Linked DNA regions of Homo sapiens. The protein of the gene in region 1 purifies or fractionates together with the protein of each later gene. This does not show direct contact. Each region holds a gene or a part of one and is shown in the gene's direction. Other genes may lie near its edges. The genes, in order: ADPGK, TMEM214, PAM, GALNT7, PDIA5, MIPEP and MGAT1.

What was found.
Region 2: the proteins of ADPGK (region 1) and TMEM214 purify together in Homo sapiens (affinity purification with mass spectrometry; 2 studies listed by BioGRID and IntAct, with this or other methods). This does not show direct contact.
Region 3: the proteins of ADPGK (region 1) and PAM purify together in Homo sapiens (affinity purification with mass spectrometry; one large-scale study listed by BioGRID and IntAct). This does not show direct contact.
Region 4: the proteins of ADPGK (region 1) and GALNT7 purify together in Homo sapiens (affinity purification with mass spectrometry; 2 studies listed by BioGRID and IntAct, with this or other methods). This does not show direct contact.
Region 5: the proteins of ADPGK (region 1) and PDIA5 purify together in Homo sapiens (affinity purification with mass spectrometry; 2 studies listed by BioGRID and IntAct, with this or other methods). This does not show direct contact.
Region 6: the proteins of ADPGK (region 1) and MIPEP purify together in Homo sapiens (affinity purification with mass spectrometry; 2 studies listed by BioGRID and IntAct, with this or other methods). This does not show direct contact.
Region 7: the proteins of ADPGK (region 1) and MGAT1 purify together in Homo sapiens (affinity purification with mass spectrometry; 2 studies listed by BioGRID and IntAct, with this or other methods). This does not show direct contact.

Annotation. Positions count from the first base shown.
Region 1 is NC_000015.10:72,756,259-72,759,758, reverse strand, and holds part of ADPGK (ADP-dependent glucokinase isoform 4 precursor), read left to right. Parts: intron 1-1,469; coding exon of another isoform or gene 1,470-1,694; intron 1,695-3,311; coding exon 3,312-3,500. UniProt on the Homo sapiens protein: Catalyzes the phosphorylation of D-glucose to D-glucose 6-phosphate using ADP as the phosphate donor. GDP and CDP can replace ADP, but with reduced efficiency.
Region 2 is NC_000002.12:27,039,080-27,042,194, forward strand, and holds the end of TMEM214 (transmembrane protein 214), read left to right. Parts: coding exon 1-85; intron 86-661; coding exon 662-758; intron 759-950; coding exon 951-1,119; intron 1,120-1,265; coding exon 1,266-1,417; intron 1,418-1,631; coding exon 1,632-1,758; 3' UTR 1,759-2,615; downstream 2,616-3,115. UniProt on the Homo sapiens protein: Critical mediator, in cooperation with CASP4, of endoplasmic reticulum-stress induced apoptosis. Required or the activation of CASP4 following endoplasmic reticulum stress.
Region 3 is NC_000005.10:102,947,305-102,950,804, forward strand, and holds part of PAM (peptidyl-glycine alpha-amidating monooxygenase isoform e preproprotein), read left to right. Parts: intron 1-1,073; coding exon 1,074-1,141; intron 1,142-2,232; coding exon 2,233-2,313; intron 2,314-2,597; coding exon 2,598-2,674; intron 2,675-3,412; coding exon 3,413-3,500. UniProt on the Homo sapiens protein: Bifunctional enzyme that catalyzes amidation of the C-terminus of proteins. Alpha-amidation is present at the C-terminus of many endocrine hormones and neuropeptides and is required for their activity.
Region 4 is NC_000004.12:173,175,311-173,178,810, forward strand, and holds part of GALNT7 (N-acetylgalactosaminyltransferase 7), read left to right. Parts: intron 1-3,500. UniProt on the Homo sapiens protein: Glycopeptide transferase involved in O-linked oligosaccharide biosynthesis, which catalyzes the transfer of an N-acetyl-D-galactosamine residue to an already glycosylated peptide.
Region 5 is NC_000003.12:123,154,025-123,157,524, forward strand, and holds part of PDIA5 (protein disulfide-isomerase A5 precursor), read left to right. Parts: intron 1-946; coding exon 947-1,017; intron 1,018-3,500.
Region 6 is NC_000013.11:23,879,401-23,882,900, reverse strand, and holds part of MIPEP (mitochondrial intermediate peptidase), read left to right. Parts: intron 1-1,113; coding exon 1,114-1,202; intron 1,203-3,500. UniProt on the Homo sapiens protein: Cleaves proteins, imported into the mitochondrion, to their mature size.
Region 7 is NC_000005.10:180,792,807-180,796,306, reverse strand, and holds part of MGAT1 (alpha-1,3-mannosyl-glycoprotein 2-beta-N-acetylglucosaminyltransferase), read left to right. Parts: intron 1-431; exon of another isoform or gene 432-1,426; intron 1,427-1,940; exon of another isoform or gene 1,941-2,040; intron 2,041-3,209; 5' UTR 3,210-3,335; coding exon 3,336-3,500. UniProt on the Homo sapiens protein: Initiates complex N-linked carbohydrate formation. Essential for the conversion of high-mannose to hybrid and complex N-glycans.

The DNA of each region.
Region 1 (3,500 bases):
CTGTGTATTTCCTGCTGTAATTTTCCCTCTGCTCAGAACTCAGACTCTTGAGTTTCTGATTCAACACATTGTTAATACACATTAAAGACTCAAGCATCTAAACAGACTAATTGGTACCTTAAAGCAGCACTTAATACTCTTCAGTGAACTACTTCCAAGTCAATTAAGAGAATCTTCTCTACTAGAGTAATTAACTTTAACATAAGATATGAACTATGTTATTTCTTGAGAATTATGCCTTTCTCCAGGTAGAAAAAAGAGTTGTAACATGTTCTGGTTCTCTTTCGGGTGCTTACTAGAATCAGTTGGGAATTAAAGAAGGATAGGGTCTGAAAATTAGGGACACAGCGTTGACGTAGGCAATTCATACTTAATGCTACACAAGTTTTTGAGTTTCTCAGCTTTAGTTTTCCCAAATGGGAAGTAAGAGTAATAGTTTTTACTGCCTGATCATTGTGGTAAGGATTAAGAGATTGGTTGGTGTGCGGAAACATTGTGAGCAGCTTGGATGAAAAGATGACCTGGCCGCACGTGGTGGCTCATGCCTGTAATCCCAGAACTTTGTGAGGCTGAAGCGGGTGGATCACAAGGTCAGGAGTTCAAGACCAGCCTGGCCAAGATGGTGAAACCCCGTCTCTACTAAAAATACAAAAATTAGCCAGGTGTGGAGGCGGGCGCCTATAATCCCAGCTACTCAGTAGGCTGAGGCAGAGAATTGCTTGAGCCTGGGAGGCGGAGGTTGCAGTGAACTGAGATTGCACCACTGCACTCCAGTCTGGGCAACAGAGCGAGACTCCGTCTCAAAAAATAATAATAATAAATAAATAAAAGAATGACCTGACTGTGGACTGGAAGGGTCTGGAATTGCTAAAGATGAGCCCCTGAGGTATTGCTGCCATGAGTTCCAGATTCGTGTCAGTTTTTTTGGCACCCACAGCAGGAACTGGGGACCTTTGTGATTCCTGGTTTGTCATTTTTCCTGGTGACTACAGAGTGGAGAGTCTTACGTCTTCAGCAAGACTTTGATGTTGTATTGGACAGCTGTGCCTCGTATGTAGTTAAGGAGACAGCACAGTTCACCGCACAAAGAGAGTGTCTCCATCCTTGGGTTTATAAGCTTCACACTTCAGTTTTTCTTTCCTATGCCTCTTCTGCATACAAAGCAGTGGACTTCCATTAAACTTTGTGAGGTGACATTTTCCTAGGTCCAAGGAGGGAGCCTAGTCTAGTGGCAGTAGCCCTGGGCTCAGCTCTCTCAACAGAAATCCATTCCCAGCTTGTCTCTGACCTCAATAGGGAAATTCCAAGGGATTTGTCCATTTTTTTTTCCACATTCTCTCTTACCAGATCTCCCCAGAGAAGCCCATTGTCAGGCTTGGGCTGGGAATCCAGTGAGTCACTACGCAGAGGTTTTGCTGACTTACTGGCTGAGGGCAGGATGATACATTGAGAAGAGATTGCTTACAGGAATGAATACAACACTTTGTGAGGAAAGAGGGGCGCTAACTACCATTACAGGCAGAATTAGATCCATTTGCATCTGCCCCCTGCATGGCCTCTCCAACGGGGCCATGAATATGCTGGAGGTGTTTGTGTCTAGCCTGGAGGAGTTTCAGCCAGACCTGGTGGTCCTTTCTGGATTGCACATGATGGAGGGACAAAGCAAGGAGCTCCAGAGGAAGAGACTCTTGGAGGTAATGGCACTGTTACAGAATTTCACAGATCTCAGCTGGTGGTTTTCTTCAGGTTCCAGCCTCTCTTGGCATCTGCTGCCTTGTTTCCTGTGGAAACAGCAAGCAGCTCTGCACGGTTCTTCTCATCCTTGCCTTGCAGAAGAGCCTGTTTATTTTTGCCTCTGTCACTTCCTGAAGAAATCAGTGTATTTTCAATACAGTGTGGCTCCTTTCTCCTAGGTTCAGTTAGGTCGTGTTTCCTAGCAGTGTCACTATTCAAGGGTTGAGTCCACGTCTTGCTCTCTGGAGAATGTCAATGTAATGTATTTTTCCCATCGTACAGAGTCTTTGTTGATTTGCAAAATGTTGGATTTGGGGTTCATACCCATATTTTTTGTTGTCATGGGCATTTAGGTCATCAGTCTGTTCTCTTATTTGCTTGTTCTTTTGTTAATTCATTCCCATGGCTATATGCCAGACACAGCATGATGCAGAAGGAATACGACAGAGGATGACACAGGCCCTGCCCTCAGCTCACAGTTTACTGCCAGAGATAGACACTTGGAAAAAGTAATTGCAGGCCGGGCATGGTGGCTCACGCCTGTAATCCCAGCACTTTGGGAGGCTAAGGCAGGCAGATCACCTGAGGTCAGGAGTTTAAGACCAGCCTGGCCAACATGGTGAAACTCCGTCTCTACTGAAAATACAAAAATTAGCCAGGCGTGGTGGCGGGTACCTGTAATCCCAGCTACTCGGGAGGCTGAGGCAGGAGAATCGCTTGAACCTGGGAGGCAGAGGTTGCAGTGAGCTGAGGTCGCGCCATTGCGCTCCAACCTGGGCAACAGAGTGAAACTCCATCTCAGAAGAAAAAAAAAAAAAAAAAAGGAAAAAAGAAAAAGGAATTGCAAAATCATGTGCCTCAGTCCTGTATTAGGGTACAGTGGTGGCCCCAGAAAGGAGGTAATCAAGTCTGCTTAGGGGTGGTAGGATTAGGAAAGGCTTCATGTTTAGGGAGGAACTAGCACTTGAACTTGGGTCTTTAAACAGTCATTCCTCTAAAGCAACTCACATAGAAGCAACTGGAGCAGCTAGATAGTCTGATCCTTTGGATCAGGTGCCCAGAAACCACTGATGGGCAGCAGGGAAGAGGAGATGCAGTGAGCTTGGCTGTTGGGAAGAAATTCAGCCTGCTTAAGTTCCAACTGAATGAAAGATGCTCAGGGCAATGCTGTGAGGAAGAATGTGCTTTAAACAATGACAGCCTATACTGTCTGCAGGGCGTGCGTGCTGCACACTGTATGCTGGTATTTGGAAGTCATGCTGCCATTCTGTACTGTCTCTCCTGTGTTTGAGAGCTCAAGTAGGGCTCTCCTGGGACTCAGGGGGAGCTAATTACCTTGAAAAAGGCATATAGCACCCATACTATGTTTCTGTTTCTTGGCTGGGTTTGGGTTTAGGTTTTTGGTTTGTTTCTTGCAGTGCCATGCTGACCTTAGGCCATTGTTGCTGGGGTCTCCTCAGCCAGAAACCAGCCTGCTTGGAGCCAAGGCTCCTGTGAGGTGCCTGAAAGTGCCCCCACAGCTAGGAGACCTAAAGCCTCTTCCTTTTCTTCCCATTGTGTTGACTGGGTTTTTCCAGGGGAGGAGTGGGGCCAGTTAAAAGCTCCCCATGCCAACCGATTCATCTTCTCTCACGACCTCTCCAACGGGGCCATGAATATGCTGGAGGTGTTTGTGTCTAGCCTGGAGGAGTTTCAGCCAGACCTGGTGGTCCTCTCTGGATTGCACATGATGGAGGGACAAAGCAAGGAGCTCCAGAGGAAGAGAC
Region 2 (3,115 bases), on another chromosome or scaffold:
CCCTGGACGCGGCTCCTCCTGTTGCTGCTGGTCTTCGCTGTAGGCTTCCTGTGCCATGACCTCCGGTCACACAGCTCCTTCCAGGGTAAGCAGCAATGGGCAAGCGAGGAGGATGGTGTGGGCGGGGCACAGAGCTACACGTAGCACCACCACCCCGCCCCCAGCAGCACACATCTTTGTCCTGACGAGTTCTCAATCCTGCAGAGTAAACACTTTACAGACAGATTTTTTTGTCCACAGATATGACACTACCATTTCAGATTGGACTAGGACTTCGCAGTATAGAAGTGCTTGCATATTCATAGTATCATTTTAGTAGGTGTTACCTCCTTTTAACTCCTGAGGAAATGGTCTCAGAAAGATGTAGCAATTAGCTTTAGGTCATAGCTAGTAAGTAGAAGGGCAGACCCTCAACCTGAGGCTTCCTGAAGCCTGAGCCTAGGCTCCAACCGGCAGCTGCATTCCTGCACACCTGGCCCAGCAGGAGAAGGGCAGCTCTGCATGCCTCCCTCCACAGCAGCCTGGAGCTGGCTTTGTGGCCCTGTGAGAACACAAAGCTCTGCCCAGCGCCTCGCTGTGCCTGCTCTGGGCCCTGTAGTGTCTGTCTCCCCAGTCCCTGCCCCTCTCACCTCCCAGCTCACCAGAGGCCCCCTTTACTTAGCCTCCCTTACTGGCCGGTTGCTTCGATCATCTGGCTTCTTACCTGCTAGCCAACAAGCGTGTGCCAAGCTCTACTCCTACAGTCTGCAAGGCTACAGGTGAGCTCCTCCCAGGGAGGGGAGAGGAGAGGCAGAAGAGAGAAGGCCTGGGTGTCAGGGAGGAGGCGACAGTCAGTGGGAAGCGCTTGTGATTCTCCTTTCCCACGGCCTCCCTTTCCCCAGCTGTTTCTTGGGAGCTAAGTGGGCCTGAGGAGACTCAGAGCCCTCTTCCCCCACTTCCATCTTCCACAGCTGGCTGGGGGAGACACTGCCGCTCTGGGGCTCCCACCTGCTCACCGTGGTGCGGCCCAGCTTGCAGCTGGCCTGGGCTCACACCAATGCCACAGTCAGCTTCCTTTCTGCCCACTGTGCCTCTCACCTTGCGTGGTTTGGTGACAGTCTCACCAGTCTCTCTCAGAGGGTAAGTCAGAGACAGGGAGTCAAATAAGGGGCTGGTTTTCCCAGGAGCAGAATTCTGGGAAAGGAGCAGCACTGTGTGGCCTGAGTCTTTAGGGCCAGGATGCAGTTCCCTGGATACTCTGACCCCATCCATTCTCCATGGTCCAGCTACAGATCCAGCTCCCCGATTCCGTGAATCAGCTACTCCGCTATCTGAGAGAGCTGCCCCTGCTTTTCCACCAGAATGTGCTGCTGCCACTGTGGCACCTCTTGCTTGAGGCCCTGGCCTGGGCCCAGGAGCACTGCCATGAGGCATGCAGGTGAGACCTTTGCCCAGGGCTCCGGCAGGATCCCCAGCAGCCCCATTCCCGGGCCCCAGGGACAAGCCATCTCTATCCAGTCTCCCACACTGTCCTGCCCCTCGCTCCCATTCCTGGCCACCCTGGGATGAGGGTTGTGGGTCTAAGCTTTCATCCCCGAAAGTTGACACAGCTACTCACGTGCATACTCAAAAATGTTCCACTTTCCTTCCAGAGGTGAGGTGACCTGGGACTGCATGAAGACACAGCTCAGTGAGGCTGTCCACTGGACCTGGCTTTGCCTACAGGACATTACAGTGGCTTTCTTGGACTGGGCACTTGCCCTGATATCCCAGCAGTAGGCCCTGCCTTCCTGGCCACTGATTTCTGCATGGGTAGACCATCCAAGACTGCAGCGGGTAGAAGGTGGCAGTTCTTCATGGGAGTCTTTTTAACTTGGTGCCTGAGTTCTCTCCTAGGCAAGTGGCCAGTTGCCTCCACCTCAGTTCTTCCATCTTTGGTGGGGACAGGGCCCAGCAGCATCTCAGCCTCCTACCCACAATTCCACTGAACACTTTTCTGGCCCTACTGCACATGGCCCCCAGCCTCCATCCTTGTGCTGGTAGCCTCTCACAACTCCGCCCTTGCCCTCTGCCTTCCACTTCCTTCCATCTCATTTCTAAACCCCAAACAGCTCATCTCTAAAAAGATAGAACTCCCAGCAGGTGGCTTCTGTGTTCTTCTGACAAATGATTCCTGCTTCTCCAGACTTTAGCAGCCTCCTGTTCCCATTCTTGGTCACAGCTCTAGCCACAGCAGAAGGAAAGGGGCTTCCAGAAGAATATAGCACCGCATTGGGAAACAGCAGCCTCACCTCCACCTGAAGCCTGGGTGTGGCTGTCAGTGGACATGGGGAGCTGGATGGAAATGCCTCTCACTTCAAAATGCCCAGCCTGCCCCAAATGCCTCTAAGCCCCTCCCTGTCCCCTCCCTTGTAGTCCTACTTCTTCCAACTTTCCATTCCCCATCATGCTGGGGGTCTTGGTCACAAGGCTCAGCTTCTCTCCACTGTCCATCCCTCCTATCATCTGTAGAGCAGAGCACAGGCAGTTGTGTGCCTTGGGCCCAGGGAACCCTCCATCAACCTGAGACAGGACTCAGTATATGGTTCTTGGGTATGCCCTACCAGGTGGAATAAAGGACACAGATTTGATTTCTAGCATTCTTGTCTGCATCCTCATATAGAAATTCCCCTAGTTATGGTTCAGAATAACAAAATCCTGGGCCCTTGCCCTCCTGAAGACTGTAGCCGTGGCTGTAATTAAGCTCCTGGTGGGGGAAGCCCACACACATGGTTCTAAAGTTTGACCTGGTGGGTGTTCTAGACACTTCTCTTGCTACCCTAATTATAGTGTCTGACTTGTCACTGTGATTCACGTCCCAGATTTGCCTTGATAGTTTTACGCTTAGAAAAGCAGGGGGCCGTCTCCTAGGGGAATTCTTGGCCAGTGACCAGGAGGTGTCCTTTCCTTGCCAGGACCTTCATTTTATAGAGCAGTGAGTGAAAGATTTAGAACTCCAAGGGACACATGAGTCCAAGGTTTATCACCGAAGCCCCTTTTTATTTTTGACTTGAGACTATAAGGAGTTAGATAACTCTGCTGGTTTCTTAGTTCTCAATTTTGTTTCCTTAAATGTTTCAAGTCAGCAGTACTAGAG
Region 3 (3,500 bases), on another chromosome or scaffold:
GAGAGGGCATGCATGCAAGATGGAAGCCAGAGTCTTTCAGTAACCTAATGTTCAAAATGGCATACCATCACTTTTGCCATATTCTATTTGTTAAAGATAAGTTACCGAGTAACTCAGGAATGGAAAACCAAACATTGTATGTTCTCACTCATAAGTGGGAACTAAGCTGTGAGAATGCAAAGGCATAAGAATGATACAGTGGACTTTGAGGACTTCCCAGGGTAAAGGATGGGAAGGAGGTGAGGGATAAAAGGCTACTAATTGAGTTCAGTGTATACTGTTTGGGTGATGGGTGCACCAAAATCTCAGAAATCACCACTAAAGAACTTAGGTAACCAAATACCACCTGTTCCCCAAAAATCTATGGAAATAAAAAAAATGTTAAAAATGTTTAAAAAGATGTTACTACACTTCTTTTAGCCCACATTAAAGGGCAGGGGATTAGACCAGGGCATGAATGTCACAGCTAGGAATCATGAGAGCTGATTAGTCAGGGTTCTCCAAAGAAACCTGAACCAATAGAATAGAGAGAAAGAGAAAGAGTTGTTGTAAGGGATTGGCTGACACTATTGTGGGGACTGATTAAGTCCTAAATCCATTGAGCCAATTGGAAATTCAAGGAAGGGTTGATGTTGCATTCTTGAGTCCAAAGGCAATTCACAGGCAGAATCCTTTCCTTTTGAGGGGACCTTAGTCTTTTCTCTTCAGACTTTCAATGGACTGGATGAAGCCCACCCGCACTATGGAAAATAATCTGCTTTACTCAAAGTTTAATTTAAAGGTTAATCACATTTAAAAATCACCTACCCAGCAACACCTAGACTGGTGTTTGACCAAACAACCAGGCACCTGGCCAAGTCAACACGTAAAGTTAGCTATCACAGGAACCATTTAGAGTCTGCCTTCACATGAAAAAGTATTTTTTAAGGAAGAAAAATTTTTCCTCTTTTTCTACTTCAATTTTCAAAAGCATCACATTTTATAAACCAAAGTATTGAGGTATATGCTGTTTTTCCAAAACAGTCATTTTGACTTTTTCAGGTATTTTAGAAAAATGTTATTTTTTTCTGCAGACAGCCTTTAATTGCTGGCATGTACCTTATGATGTCTGTTGACACTGTTATCCCAGCAGGAGAAAAAGGTGAGTAATGATTTTTTAATATTTACCATTACCTCATTACCTAATCTGTAGAAATGGATTTATACTGTATTTTTTATAAACTTTAAAAATAATCAATATTTTTATGTCTTGGAAAAATGAACCAATACTTTATTGTCCTTGGATTTAAAATAGATTTTTGTATTATTCCAAGCCAGTGGTTTATTACTTTTCCATTCTTTATTGAGATGCTAGGAATTGAGGCCCTTGTGTAGGTGTGTATTATATAAATTAAAGAATAAATCTTGAGTATTTAAAAATAAATCATCCATTCTTGAGATGCAGAGGACACACTGCATAATGAGCAGTGACATAAACTTCTACATAGAAAGATTTAAAAATTAAACGACTAGCAAATCCAGCACCAACTTAGTCTTTAAACTTGGATATAGTTGGCTTACTTCTCTACTTGCAAAATGGGGATGATAATAGCTGATTCTCCCAAGCTTACTAGAAGCGATGAGAATAAGTATATTATTATTTATCAATATATTTTACGATCCTCTGATGAAAGTGCCATATGAAATATTGTTCATTTGTTTTCGCTGGGAATCTCTTAAAGTTAATGACCAGTATGGTCTCTTTGTTACCATTTTTTCATCTATTATAAAATGAATATTTATTGAATAGCTACTGTGTTAGACTATAAGGAAGGAACAGTATGAAATGGCCTCTTCTCAACAGGAACTGTCAATGTAGTGATGTTAGGTGTCTGCATTCAATTTTTCAAAAATTCTTTCATTCCAAAAATAAAAACCAATTTTTAAGCTTTCTCAACTGGATAAATTTCAAGCTAAAGGTAACAAATTAAGCCTATGTTTTCACTAACAGAGTATTTTGATTTGGTTCTAGTCATTCTGTTTATGAATAAAATAAAAATATAAGGCAAGGGGTTCTTAATTCATGTGAGTAAAGTGGCTGGCACAGAATAAGTGCTTAATATCTGTGTATTTAAGTCATAAGAAAACCTCAGTCCCTAGCATCTTGTGAATACCCTATGCATAATTTTAGATAAGAATAATGTCATTTTCCAGTTGAATAGTGACTTTTGTCTGTGTTTTCATTTCCCACAGTGGTGAATTCTGACATTTCATGCCATTATAAAAATTATCCAATGCATGTCTTTGCCTATAGAGTTCACACTCACCATTTAGGTAAGAACTTTACATGTTAAATTATAAATATTTACCATTGTGCTTCCTGGTGCCATAAATTAAAATGCAAATTGTGTTTGACCTTAAGTCTGTTTCAATGAAAGTGATTTCATATAAGACCTTGAAATATTTTATGCTGTTTTATCATATTGTTTTTTTAAGATACTCAGTCTTTGCAGCTCTGAAAATACTCAGATTTCTACTTTAAAGTAGGAAAGTAAATATGCCTTTTGTTTTTCTAATACCTTATTATATTAAATGATTAAAATTTGTGTTTATTACAGGTAAGGTAGTAAGTGGATACAGAGTAAGAAATGGACAGTGGACACTGATTGGACGGCAGAGCCCTCAGCTGCCACAGGTGGGTAAAATCTAGTTTAATTTTGAGAGAAAAAAATATTAACCAGCAGAAAGTAATTTTTAAAAATTATTATGCAACTCTTGTGAATTTCTCTAAAAATCTCTAAATCTGCCTTAACTGTATAACTGAGCTGTATAACCTCCTTTTTGCAACTTCCAATTTGTTGCTTTCTTTGTCAGTTTTCTCAATATGGTCAAACCATGTTGGTGGCCTTTCACATCCCATCATTTATTCAAAGACAGTATTTCAGACAGCTCTTCTATTATCACATTTATTCTGATTTTTATGGGATGCATTTGCTAATAGTATTTTTTTGTTTATTTCAAAGTTTGGTGCTCTTGTCATAAAGTAGAAGTTATTAATTAAAGGTGAACTGTTTTTATCCGATGATTAAAGGTGAACTGTTTTTATCCAGTGATTATTTGTGTATGTGGGTGGGTGTGTGTGTGTGTGTGTGTGTGTCTATTTCACTGTCTGTCTTCATCCTCTCTACCCAGAGTGTACCAAGCTTCACATTATTAAAGCATGGGGTTCTGTGATATATCAATAGAATTAAGGTCAAAAATCCTCTGATCAGTTGAATGGATGCTGAAAAAGCATTTGATAAAATTCAACATCCCTTCATGATTAAACCCTCAAAAAAGGGGTAAAGGAGGAACATACCTCAACACAGTCAAACATGTAGTTCTGGATTTTATTGGTAATATTAATGATTCATTGTGTTTGTCTTTTTGGTAGGCTTTCTACCCTGTGGGGCATCCAGTTGATGTAAGTTTTGGTGACCTACTGGCTGCAAGATGTGTATTCACTGGTGAAGGAAGGACAG
Region 4 (3,500 bases), on another chromosome or scaffold:
GTTTATTTGTAACAACCACCCTCTATTGCAAGTCCGATGGAATCCCAACTTTATAGATGAGACTGTTGTGGTATAGAGAGGTGAACTCTTTGTCCAAGTTTATTCACTTAATTAATTGTAGAGCCAGGATTCAATCTCAGGTGTTCTAACTTCAGAGCTGTGCTCTCTGATCTTGCACTACAGTTTTTAACAACACAGACAAGTACACATGGGCTACATTAAAAGGTGGATATGTAGACGCTAGCTGGGTAATTTCAGATAAACACTGAAGACAATATAGATGGTCCCTGACTTACCATGATTCAGCTTACGATTTTTGACTTTTCAATGGGTTTATCGGTGTGTAACCCTGTCATAAGTCTGAGCACATCTGGACTTAAGATGTCTTATGATTCTTCAAGTTTACAGTGGGTTTGTTGCAGGGTGTAACCCCTTGTAAGTCGAGGAACATCTGTACATGGTAATATGAAAGAGAATGGGAGGCTGGTGCGGTGGTTCATGCTTGTAATCCCAGCGCTTTGGGAGGCCTAGGCAGGCGAATCACTTGAGGTCCGGAGTTTGAGACCAGCCTGGCCAACATGGTGAAACCCTGTCTCTACTAAAAATACAAAAATTAGCCAGGCATGGTAGCACACCCCTGTAATCCCAGCTACTCAGGAGGCTGAGGCAGGATAATTGCTTGAAGCCAGGAGGCGGAGGTTGCAGTAAGTGGAGCTCGCGCCACTACACTCAAGCCTGGGCAACAAAACGAGACTCCATCTCAAAAAAAAAAAATTAAAAACAAAAAGAAAGAGAATGGGTTGGAAGGGACCACTCAGGGAATGTCAGGGAAGGTGATGGCCAGAGCAGAGTCTTCAGGAGTAAGTGTAAGACTATCATGCAAATCTGGCGGAAAAGCATTCCAGGCAGAGGGAACAGAAGTGCAAAATTCCTGAGGTTGGAATGAGGCTGGAGTATTTGAAGCCAGTATGGCCGGAGTTTGTTGAGTTTGGAGGTAGTACAGTACGGGATGAGCTTGAAGATGTAGTCAGGACTCAGATGATGGGGGTGTGTGGCTCTTGTGGTCTGTTATTAGGGTGATTATTTGTTTTAGTTTACATTTGCTGCCCATTAGCCATTATTATCCTTTCACTCTCAGAAGTGTCCTGGGTTGGATGGTAAATTATATGGATGTCTTGCTTAAAGTGTATTTTCCTAGATAAATAAAATGAGTAATAACCCTTTTTGGCCACAGTTTGTGGGCCAGATGCACAAGTAAACAATTGTGCTGGGTAAGACAAAAACTGTATTAGTTAAGTCCACTGAGTCCTGTGGGAGCACAGAGAAAGGAGCATCTAGTGTATGGGACTGGATGCTGTCAGAGAGCTTGTCTTATAAAAAGAGATGCTGGAGAGATGAGGACAGAGGAGACTGTGCAACAGCATAAATAACTGTGACCAATCCTGGGGACTACATGGCTGAAAATTGGGTTGGAGAGGGGTGGAATGGAAGAGAGGACTCTAGAAAGATAAATAGAATCTGAGCCATGAAAGACTTTGAATGGTCAGAGCTGGGCTATAAGGAATAATCTGGAAACAGTGCAAGCTAGATTTTAGTGAGGAGAGAATTATGTCCGAAGGATATAATGAAGCTTAAACTAAGGAGAAGGACCTAGAAACTGAATACAGAGGAAGAGATTATGGAAGTATAATAGAATTGCCCAGTGGGAGGAGGAATCATTCTTGATGGTAAAGGAAAGGATGTTGATGCCTTTAGAAGGAATACAGCTGTCCAAAGCACTGGCTCTCAAACTTCTTTAGGCTTCGGAGTCACCTAGAGGGTGTGAGAAAACGGATTACTTGGCCCCATCCCCCGAATTTCTGATTGAGTAGATTTAGGGTAGAGCAGATAATTTGCATTTCTAACTAGTTCCCCGGGGATGCTGATGCTGCTGGTCCAGGGATCATGCTTTGAGGAGTGCCAGTCTAGAGGTTATATAGATTTGGGGGCTGCAAAATGAAAATGAAAAATTTGGTTTGGTTTGGCATATAGTATTTTATAGAACACAGGTCAGTCAAGTGAAGGTGTCTTAACCAGGTCGATGGAGCTCAGAATGGAATCAGAAGTGGATGCATTTCATTGGCCAGAGGGTGGTGTCTGAAGCACAGGGAGTGGGTTGGTAAGTTAAAGGAGCCTGTGTGGATGGAGGAGAAAAATGTGTGTATTAAGAAGAAACATGGAAAATGCCTTCTTTTAGGCTCTAGGAGGTTGGTGGGGAGAGATGAAAGAAGGCATAGACAGAAGTAAAATGACTTAGACGATATTGCCTAACCGTGAGCAAAAATAATTTCTTTAAGGACAGGGCCATCAACAAATTCAGATGTTAAAATGTTTGAGAACTGATTAGAATGAAAGCTGAAACGAGTGGCTGTGGAAGCATTACCTGCCTGCTAACCTAACCAGTAGTACTTTGGTCTAGAGAGGGACTACAGCAGCATCATCATTAGCATCTCAGTAAATATTGTGGCCCAGAAAAACTGGTTCAGATGATAAAGAAGTTCAGGTCGTGAAGAGTCATCTTCACTATGGGAAAAATACAAATAGAGAAAAAGTTTTATTAGAGAACTGTAACTATCAAAGAGGAACTTAACCCATTTTTGGTTATATCTGGGCTACCATAACTTTATGTGCCTTTCCACCTCTCCCTATCCGCAAGTCTGTGTGTGTGTGTGTGTGTGTGTGTGTGTGTGTGTGTGTGTGTGTGCGCGCACGCGCGTGCGCACAGACACCTATGTATATATATTTTAGTTGTGATCATATATAATACTATATAAGATAGATATTGCAACACATATTAGTCTTTTTTTACTCATGTCTGAAATCTGGTGATTTGAAAAGCTGTGACTAGAAAACCAATTTAATATTTAAAGTTGGAAAATAAATTTTATTCTGAGAACATGAGGCAATTTTTAGTTTTTAGTACATTAATTTGACTGAAGGATATTAAAAAAACAATAGCAAAACTATGCTATTCTCAGCGTAGAGAAAATGTATGCTCAGCATTTCAATACTCTTAGTTTTTAAAAATGAGGTTTATCATTAAATTATAGTTCAGCCCTGTGATCCTGAAAGCAACACTGAGACAACATGAACTGCAGTCACCTAGGGCCTATGTCTTTTTGGAAAGGGAAGAGCTAACTTTCAGTTGCTTAATTTGCTAAGAATCCTGAATATTTCCAAATGAGAAATGTTCTCATTTCTGCACCATTATAAATTCCCTTCTGGGCTTCCCAGCCTTGGAAGCATTTTCAGGCATCACTCCCAAGAAGCATTTAAACATGCCGACAGGGAGACCTGATTCACTTCACTGAATACAAGAACTGGTACACTGAAACTTGAGGAAAAATTTAACTTTACATTATCTAATTAGGTTTATAGAATTGGTGCAGAGCAGCCTGGTTTCCCAAATCTAGAAGGTACGATTAACTATAGTATTATATCAATACCAACTAGTCTGCGAA
Region 5 (3,500 bases), on another chromosome or scaffold:
TGAGAGAGGAGGGGGGTTTGGGTTCTGATCTGTTAGTGCTGAGGGAAGGGCTGGATCAGCCTGCAGCTCCTGGGCTCACCAGGACAGGAGGAGAAAGTGGCCCCCACAGAGGTCCCTACCCTGCTTCTGAGACACTGAGGTCAGAGTTGGGGCTCAGGGTGATGCCCAGAACAAGAGACAGATGCTGGAGGTAGGGGCCCCAGTATAGCTCAAAGGCCTTAGGCTGCTCTGACAAGCCTTCTCCCTGGGACAGGGAGCATCAAGGGACCTGAGGACTGCCTGGTGACTTCCCGTAGCTCCTCTCCCTCTTACCCTGACCATGGCCTTCCTGTTCCTGGCTTTGAGGTTCTGGTTATTGTAGAGCAAAGAGTAGATGGAGACCTGGGGACCAGGGCCTGATTTGGCTGCTCACAGTCTGGGCTGGGTGGAGGTTGCTAGGAATGCAGAAGTTAGCAGCAAATCATGAGCAGTGGGTGCAGAGTAGTTGCCCCAAAATCCCCCCACCCTGCATTTCCCAACGCCACTTCCTCTCAGTCAGGAAATGGAGAGATTTGCTATTGTCCCTGGAGCAAGAGAAGATTGTAGCGGCTCTGAGAATCCCGTGCCTTCCTCTTTAAGCCCAAAGCTCCCTCTGCCCCCAAGATCAGGCTGTTCCTCGTCCTCTGTGGAAGGAGCAGAACTAGACTACAGTGACCATCGCCCCCCAGCCTGGGCAGGAGCATATGATGCTTGTGACAGGGACTCCTACCAGTCCCCCCTACCAATAGATCAGACATGGGTGGGAGGTGGTTAGAGTGGCAAGGTTGACAAAAGGACCCTGACAGTGTGGCGGGCAGTGGGGAGCTCCTGGAGAGCCCTCTCTGGAGCTTTCAGGAAGGGTCCCTGGCCCTGCAGCCTCCCTGCACATGCATCACAGTCCTGTGTGCTCTCTTCCCCTCTCACACAGGGTGCCCACACTGTAAGAAGGTCATTCCGCACTTTACTGCTACTGCTGATGCCTTCAAAGATGACCGAAAGGTAAGGACAGCGCTCTTCATCTCTTGATCTGCCTGCAGCTAATTCCTACACCTTCCTTCTTGTCATTCAGGTCCTTCCCCAAACAGGGGCAGGTCTGCTAAGACCTGTAAGCAGGAAATTCCTTGGGAACCAGGACATTCTCTTTAGAAGGAAGATAGGGCAGGCTGGATTTATGCTGCAAAATCAACTAAAAGGGATATGCTGAACCATTCCAGCACTTACTTGGAGGAGAGGGATGGTTAAAGGGGTCATCTATTTACTTTTTTAGTGTTTGAACCTTTTTACTGTAGGATTGTCATCATGCATTACTTATATAATTAAAAATACAAATTTAAAAATCCAACAAAAGTCAACTGGAGGATGCCATGGTGGAGGAGAGCAAGGCCATGTCAGTGGAGCCTCGCCCTGCCTAAGTGAAAGGCTCCTGCAGCTGCCGACTGATGAAGCATAAAATTAACAAGCTAGAGCTGCAGATTGGATTAGAGTGCAGGGCCTCCAGGCGCGTCCCCCAGGCACATCCCCCAGGCAGCTGGTGCAGTGGGGGCTTCTGCTGGGAGAGGGCTTGTGGGGCAGGGAAATACCCCTGAATTCGGGGAAGTGTGATTGACTGCCAGCCTTTGAGTTCCCTTCTCATCCATGCCAGGCGGAGCACTGGTGCAGAGGACTGCAAACATTCCTCCCAGCCCTGAGACTCAGTCATGGGAACCTCTGGCCTAACAGGCCCTAGAAGCTGGCAGTCACGTGGGATCTGCATTCACACACACCCAAACCCAGAGTCACGTGCAGGGGTGCCTTACTTTCCTGGGTGGAATCCCAGGTGGGGCCAGGGCAGGCTGGAAGGAACCAAGGCCAGGCATAAGCTGAGCATAGAGTCCTAGATGATAAACAGGCCAAGCAGGCCTAGACGGAAGTTCAGCCGAGGCAGGAAAGGGGAGCAGGTATTAGTGGAGCAGCCCTCACAAGCAGAGACAGATGACCATCCCAGGGCCGGGTGGGCAGGGTTTGAAGTTTTGATCAAGGCCAACAGGAGGTCAGGCCTAAAGGTACCATCCAGACCTTGTGGGAGCAGAGATACAGGTGCTAGGATCACCTTAACAGGCCCAGAGACAGTGGCAGAGATGGGGTAATGAGAACTTTACAGGGACATAAAGCCAAAGGAAGCCAGGCTGGGGACAGGCCCATGCAGGCAGAGTGGGGATGAACTGGGAACCTGATTCTCACTTAGACCCAGAGCCCAGGACTCTCTCTGGAGTCAGGAGGTCCCATTGTTACCCGAAAGCCCTGGCTGCGGCTTTGAGGCACCCCTCACCCCCACCAGAAGGGAGTACAAGGACCAGAAGCGTTTTCTCCTCTGCCTGCCCCTTTCCCTGCACTGAGTGGGGTATGGCAGCAGGGGCTTCCTTCCCGTGTCCATGTCCCTCATTGTTCCCACCCACTTGTGCACAGCACAGGGTAGTTGCTCCTGCTTGGTGGTCCCACGATATCCAGCATGGCCTGGGCTGCCAGTCCACAGGACCGGAATAGCTGCCACTCTGTATTGACGTCCATCACGTGCCACCCAGAATGCTGGGTGCTCTGGGCAGCAGGAGAAAGGCTGAGGTGTGCCATCTCCCTGTCCCACTGGACACTCAGGTCTCCATAGGCCCCAGGAGATCTGTGAGGGTCCTGAGGCATGACTGGCAGACAGATCCTGGGCTTGCCCTCCCAGCCATGCTGGGGAGCATGGTGTCAGGGAGCGTGGTCCAGCTGAGGCACCGAGGGGGCTGGGGAAACCCTGAAGGGGCAGCCCCATTGACGTGGCCCCTTTCTGCCCACTAGACCGCCGCTGAGGCTGTCCTGTGGCCTGACCCACATCAGTGCAGGTGAGGCCAGACTTGCCAGGCCTCCAGCGGGCAGCTGAGAGCCCACGTCTTCTCTTCCCATTCCCCCTGCACTGCTACATGGGGGCCCATTTCCTTGATGCTCCCCTCCGCTTAGACACTGACACACCTTTGCTTGATTGTCTTGGGCCAGTGGTGTTGTGGCCTTTTCCTGGGTTCAGTCCTCCTGTCTCTTATTCCCTCTGTCTCTCCTTTCAGCTTCCTTTATTCCAAGCCAGGGATCACCCTCACTTGCATTCAGGAATGCACTTCATAACCTCTCTGTCTGAGGCAGGTGGCCTGCCTGGGTTTCCTGGAGGTTATATTCATGACATCAGGGAAGCCAGCCATCTGGCCTGGGGGGCTGAACTTACTGGTGCCCACTCTGTGCTCCAGGCATGGCACTGTGACTACTGGGTCCCATCCTACAACTATCAGATCAGAGTCTCTGGGGGATGGTGCTGGAAATTTGTGGTTTTTAAGAGCTGGCTCTTGTGCTGGCCACAGGCTGGTGTGTGGGGACTGTTGGCCTGTCCCCTCTCCCTTTACTCGTGAGGGATCCAGGCCCAGAGAGGAGCTGTGTCCCTTGTTCAGGAATGCCCAGCGGGTCACTGACAGCCAGAA
Region 6 (3,500 bases), on another chromosome or scaffold:
ATAAATTCACAACCCGTAGATTAGTAATTTGTAAAAAAAAAATGTTGTAAATTTACATAACTCATTTTTCAGGTACTTTGGTACTAATGTTATTTTATCGTTACCAATTGTTACAACAAATATACCAAACTATGGATTTAAATGTTTTGGCATTAAAAACTATTTGATAATAAAATTAAGAAATTTTATCTTGTGGTGATTTTATTTCATGTTATAGTCACATTTTCTTGGCAAATAAAATATGTAGTGTTTTGTAGTTTCTCTGCTTTTTGTTACAGTTGACATGAAAACAAAAATTTAGTTTTACATCATTTTATCTTTTTAAAAAAGAACTGTCACTCATTTTAATGTCTAATGACTTAAGTAGCAGCAGCAGTAGTAGCTGTATACAGTATTACATGGAGACTACGAACTCATATTTTATTGAAAGGACTATGAAGAGACCGTGCCTTTGTTTTCTGCACAAAGACTACCATGTAGTTAAATCAAAGACTAGAATGTAGTTAAATGGGTTTTGAAACTATACTATGTGTCAGTTAAAAAAAAAAGCCTTTAAGAGTTGTTTTCTGGAGATAAGTTAACATGTGAAAACCATACTGCAAAGAATTTTAGCCAGAAAGTTGTAGAATATTTGAAACCAGTGTCTGCTCTTTTGAAATAAAGAATTAGAGGGCGTGGTGGTGGGCACCTGTAGTCACAGCTACGTGGGAGGCTGAGACAGGAGAATGGCGTGAACCCGAGAGGCGGAGCTTGCAGTGACCTGAGATTGCGCCAATGCACTCCAGCCTGGGCGACGGAGCAAGACTCCGTCTCAAAAAAAAAAAAAAAAGAAAGAAAGAATTTGCTTGGTGTTTATATTTGAAAGAGAAAAACTTTTCTGAAATAATAAAAGTCTTTTTTTGGAGTGAAACAAACTTGGTTTCAAGGAATAACAGAATTAAATGTTCAGAAAGAAGCTGCTTTGCTTTACTCGCTTAGGAAAAAGTCAGTAATGGAAATGCATAGGGCAAGCCAATGGCACATCTTAAAACCCAGTTTTCATTTTCACCCTCAGATCCTGGAAGAAAGCTTCTCATCAAATTCCCTTTTGGTTTTGTCTTTCCCCTTTATTAGGCTGATTTTGTGAAAATCGCTCACCCTGAGCCAGCATTCAGAGAAGCTGCGGAAGAAGCTTGTAGAAGTATTGGCACCATGGTAGAGAAGTATGTGCTGTTCCCCTCCCCACCTCCATGCCAAGTCCTGGGTGATCCGGTTTCATGGACTTGTGCCGTAGGCAGTTTTGTCCATAGCGCTTGTCCCTCACCCAGCAGGGTGGGAGGTGTGTGTGACCAGGGGTGGCCGGAGGGAGGGCTCAGGACAGGCCATTGGCTCACCTCGCAGGCAGGCACTGGGCCTTAGGGCTGGTTGTCTGTTCTCTCAGTCATTTCCTTGTCTGTAAATGGGGTCGAAAAGTTAACCCTGCCTCAGGGTCCTTGTGAGTGTTAAATGAGATCAATGTAAAGGTGTCACTTGATAATCTGAGATGACAGACACCCAGGATTCTTGTCATCACCATTATCACTTACCTTAAATAAGGGCTTTTTAGTGTCCTAGTGGCAAGTTGGACTTACTAGATTATCGCTTGATTAAATTGCTGTTGCATCAATGGCTGTGGGCCACGGGGCGAGAAGCCAAAATGCTCTATAAACAGTGTCCTTGTGGTCCCTGTTGAGTTGGAATTAGGGGAGTCTAGGGAGGCTGTAAAAGTCTGTGGGAGGGCTGGAGCATGCTCTGGCTGAGGCTGTGATAGAGTGAATTATTTTAAAGTGATTTTGGGGTAAATGTGAGTATTTTTAAGCCACTTATAAGAGCTCCATAATGCTTGTTAAAATAACTGAATGGTGGACAGCGCTGTATTCCAACACACTTAGCTGCATGGCACCATGCCAGGCAGTGTATAGAGCTAGGGAGAGCCCTGGGCTCGCCAGCGTGGATTTACAACAGGGAAAAGGGGGTAACACGATAAGACAATTTCATATGCCAGAAATTGTTGGAGGAGGAGAGTGATGGCTTCTCTGGTTAGACGAGGCTTCCTTGGAAGACCCAACACTTCAAGATGTGCAGCTGCTGCTTTTCCCCAGGTCGCCAACATTTGTTCACTTTGGCACAATCGTGTGTGACTTTTCCCATAGCCGCTGAAAACCAACTTGCGTAATGGGACAGAACGGGGCCCTGCAGAGTGCAGATACTGGGCATGCTGACAGGGCTGAAAGTGGGGACTCCCTGGGAGAAAGCTTTGCCTCTCGGGGAAAGGCCCCTGGGAAGGAGTCAGCAGTGGGCTGCCTGCTCGAGGCTCTCTGCATGCTGTGTCCTGCCGAATTAGACGTGGGCTGGTCTCATGGACAAGCACTCTTCATTTTGTCGGAGGACAAATACAGACTGAAGTATGGGCTTTATCTCAGGGTCTTCCAACATAAAACATACTACTGGGAGATTTCCTTAAACCTCTGCAGTGGGGGCAGTGCGGGCAGCCTCTGAGCTACTGTTCCTTTGCCATGGAGTGGCTCCGTGGGTGAGCAGGTTGGGAGGAGGTAGGCCTCCACACTCACTCTCTCCCTGACTTCTGGGATCCGTGTGTGGGAGTCTGGCCCTTCTTGGTGAGTGTTTTTTTGATGGGTAATGACTATCTACGTTTCACTAGTATTTGGGAAGGCCCATGAGAATGGTAGCAGAAACCCTTCGATTCATATAAATCTTAAGTGTTTTTTTGTGAACCAACTGAGGAACAGGAGTATCCTTGAGTCTCTGAGTAGCGACTGGTGAGTGGTTCTTACAACCTTATCCCTCCTTGAAGACCTACCCAGCAGGGTGCAGATTGTATCTAGACCCAGCTCACTATTTAGTTTTGAGGGGGCCATGGCATTTGCATTTAGGGAAGAGGACTGGGTTCCTGCTAGTGGTACTATGGGGTGGGTTGGGACCACTGCCCAGCATTGGGCCCTTTGCTCTCTGGATGGCACAACTGCTCAACAGTGGCCATGGTTCATTCACATAGGAAATGTGTGCTGCACACATGATCTCATTTAATCCTCACGGCAGCCTAAAGTCTAAATAACGTGTCCAAGGTCCCACAGCAGTAACAAGGCCAGTCTTGCATCCCAGTTGGGTGGCTCTGAAGCCTGTGTCCTGAGCTCTCCCTTACAGTGTTTTTAAATTTAAAAATTAGCTGGGCGTGGTGGTGTATGCCTGTAGTCCCAACTGCTTGGGAGGCTGAGGTGGAAGGATCACTTGAGCCCAGAAGATTGAGGCTGCAGTGAGCTGTGATTGTGCCACTGCATTCCAGCCTGGGTGCTGGGTGACAGAGTGAGACCCTGTCTCCAAAATAAGGGAAAGAAAGAAAGAAGGGAAGGAAAGAAGGAAGGAAGGATGGTTACACTGTTCCTGGTAGGTTATGCTGTTCAGCTTCTGGGCATGTGTGTGGTACAAGCTGACACCATTCTTTTCATGTAAAGTTAAAAATA
Region 7 (3,500 bases), on another chromosome or scaffold:
TAGGAAGAAGACAAGTGGTTGGTGGTGAATGCTGGCAGGGGCTGGTGAAGTCTCCCCAGGAGGGAGACAGAATCCATGTCTCTTTAGAGGCCCTTCAGGATCAGCCCTTTTATACCAGATCTGCTGGTTTGAGAGCCCAGAGCCTCAGAGGTTAGATCTGAGGCCCAAGGTTTTGGCCAGGATTAGAGAGTAGCCTGTGAGGCAGAGGGCAACTGGCAGAGCTGTTGGTGTAAGAGGGTGCACGCCTGAAGCTTTGGGGTGTAAAGGGTAGACCAGAGGCAGGACAGTCAAGGAGTTATGGTCTGGAGTGGCAGCTGGCTGGGAATTGGGGAGTGTTTCAGATCCTTTCAAGTAATGTGGTCTGGTAGAGCTTGGAGGATTGGTGGGACCATGCCTTTTTCTCACTGGTTTGTGTCCTGGTTCCTTCCCAGAGCCTGGCAGAGAGCAGGTGTGTGATACACGTCGTCAGGTGACTGACCGAGGAATTCAGGGCAAACAGATCATCTCAATTTGCCTTGCTGATGTGCCAGCTGGGATTACGCTGATGGATGAAGCTCTTCAGAGCTATGGGCAATATCTACATATTTGATTGTCAAGAAACTTCGTGTGGAAATAGCTTCAAACTTACACAAATTGCAAGAATAAAAAATAGTATAAGGATATTCGTACACACTCTCTTTACTCAGATTCACCTGTTAATATTTTGCTCCATTTGCTCTCTATGTGTGCAGAGTATGTTTTTGTTCTGAACCATTTGAGAAGTTGCATCTATCCTGGTCCTCTACTTCTCAATACTTCAGTGTGTATTACCTAAGAATTGGAATTAATCAGTTATCACTGATACTTTAACCTACTGTCCATATTCCACCTTTGTCATTTTACCCAATAACGTCTTTTTAAAAAAAGTTTTTTGAGGTTTCATTGACATACAATTGATATCAATATGTGCAAAGAACTGCATATAAAGTGTACAATTTGATAAGTTTTGACATATATGTGTGTGTGTGTATATATATATATATATATATACCTGTAAAAGTATCACCACAATCAAGATAATAAACATATCCACCCTTCTAGAAGCTTCCTAATGCCCCTGTGTAGTAACTACCCTACTGCCCTTCTCTGCCTCCATCCCCAGGCAACAACTGATCTGCTTTCTGTAATATAGATTAGTTTCTATTTTCGGCAGTTTTATGTCAATGGAATCACAGTGTATGTGCTCTTTTTTGTTTTTCCCAAAAAGACCCATATTGTGTAATTATTTGGAGATTGTGTTGTGTATGTCAGTGGTTTATTCAGTTTTATTGCTGAATATTATTCCATTCTATGAGTAAACCACAATTTGTTTATCTGTATTTCCCTGTTGATGGGCCTTTGGGTTATTTCCAGTTTTGAGTGATTATGAATAAAGTTACCATCAACACTCCTGTGTAGGTTTTTGTAGGGACATGGCTGAAAGTAGAAAGAAATGGGGCATGCAGGAGAGACTGGGCTTGGTTATAACAGCCTGTTATCCCTGGGGAACTAGCTCACTCACCAGAGGACGTTAGGAAGGATCTGCCCCTGCCCCCCTTGTGATCCAAACACCTACCACTAGACCCCACCTCCGGCAGCACCACCACACAGGGGATCAAATCCCAACATGTGTTTCAGAGAACAAACCATATTCAAGCTATAGCATAGCTACGTAATTATTATAACACTATTAATAAGACCATCTTTGCCTTGGGAATTTTAAGTAGCACCTTTATTACATATTAGATTTTTTTGTGTAATGAGTCTGTTTCTGGAGCTTAAATTCTATTTCACTGGATGGTCTGTTTATTTATGTACCAGTACCACGCAGTTGTAATTATGGAGGTTTTGTAGTATGCCATATATATATATATATAATAAAAAAAAATTTTTTTGAGACAGAGTCTCACTCTCTTGCCCAGGCTGGAGTGCAATGGCACAATCCAATCACAGCTCACTACAGCCTCAGCCTCCCAGACTCAGGTGATCCCATCTCAGCCTCCTGAGTAGCTGGGACCACAGGTGCGTGCCACCATGCCCAGCTTTTTTTTTTTTTTTTTTTAATTGTTACTTGTAGAGACAGGGTCTCCGTGTGCTGCCCAGGCTATTCTTGAACTCCTGGGCTCAAGTGATCCTCCTGTATTGGCCTCCCAAAGTGCTGGGATTGCAGGTAGGAGCTACTGCATCTGGCCAGTATGCAGTATTTTCATATCTGGTAGGGCTGAGTCCCTCCTCACAGCTTATTTTTATTGTTTTCCTAGTTTTTCATGTGAACTTTACTGTCAGTTCGTCTAGCTCCATAAAAAGGTATTTTTATTGGGATTTTTGATGATGCTGAAATGTCCTGACCAAGAACAAGGGATATTCAGATGTTCTTTTGTGTCTTTCAGGAATGATAGTTTTGTTCACATAAGTTTTGAATGTTTAAGTTTATTTAAGTTTATTTCTAAATATTTTCTCATTTCTCTGGCTTTTGTAAGTAGGGTTTTCTCATCCATGTTTTCTTCTCATGAGTTATTTGTGGATATGAAGGCTATCCATTAGTATATGTTGATTTTTATATTACACTTCCTTGCTCAGTTCATTATTGATTCTTTTTGAGTTTTCCAGGCATATTCTCACAAGTAAAGATAATAGAAATAGTTTGCTTCCTTTCCACTTCTGCTTTGAATTTTTTTTTCTTGGTTCATTTGCATTGGCTGCTTCCTCCAGCAAAATGTTAAATAACCCTGGAGATGATGGGCAACTTCGTTTTGCTCCTGACATTCGTGGGGTGCCTCTGGTGCTTCCCTGTTGGTAAGGGGTTAACTGTAGCCCTGAGGTGGGACATTTGATTTTAAAAATCAGTCATCTTGGGGCGCTTAGGTTAGAGGAATGGTAGGCAGATGCTGTCACTCCTTGCCCCTCCCCTCCTCCTTCCCACCTGGAGGGGAAATGAAATCTGACAGGTAGAAAGAGGGGAGTTGGGGTTCTTTTTCTCTCTCCCTCCACCAGCATCACTCTCTGCCTCTCCCTCAAAAATACGTTCCTGGGTCAGGATATATGTTGACTCCCTAGAGAGCTCTGGAGTCAACCTCCTGGCCTTCCTCCACCCTCACTCTTGGCCTTTTCCTGCCCCCATTTCCTCTACCTGTGGGGCATGGAGCCACGAGCCTTTGTGTGACGGTTTGCTTTCTCTCTCCTGTCTTTAGGTGCATGGCTGCCTCCTAATCCCATAGTCCAGAGGAGGCATCCCTAGGACTGCGGGCAAGGGAGCCGGGCAAGCCCAGGGCAGCCTTGAACCGTCCCCTGGCCTGCCCTCCCCGGTGGGGGCCAGGATGCTGAAGAAGCAGTCTGCAGGGCTTGTGCTGTGGGGCGCTATCCTCTTTGTGGCCTGGAATGCCCTGCTGCTCCTCTTCTTCTGGACGCGCCCAGCACCTGGCAGGCCACCCTCAGTCAGCGCTCTCGATGGCGACCCCGCCAGCCTCACCCGGGAAGTGATT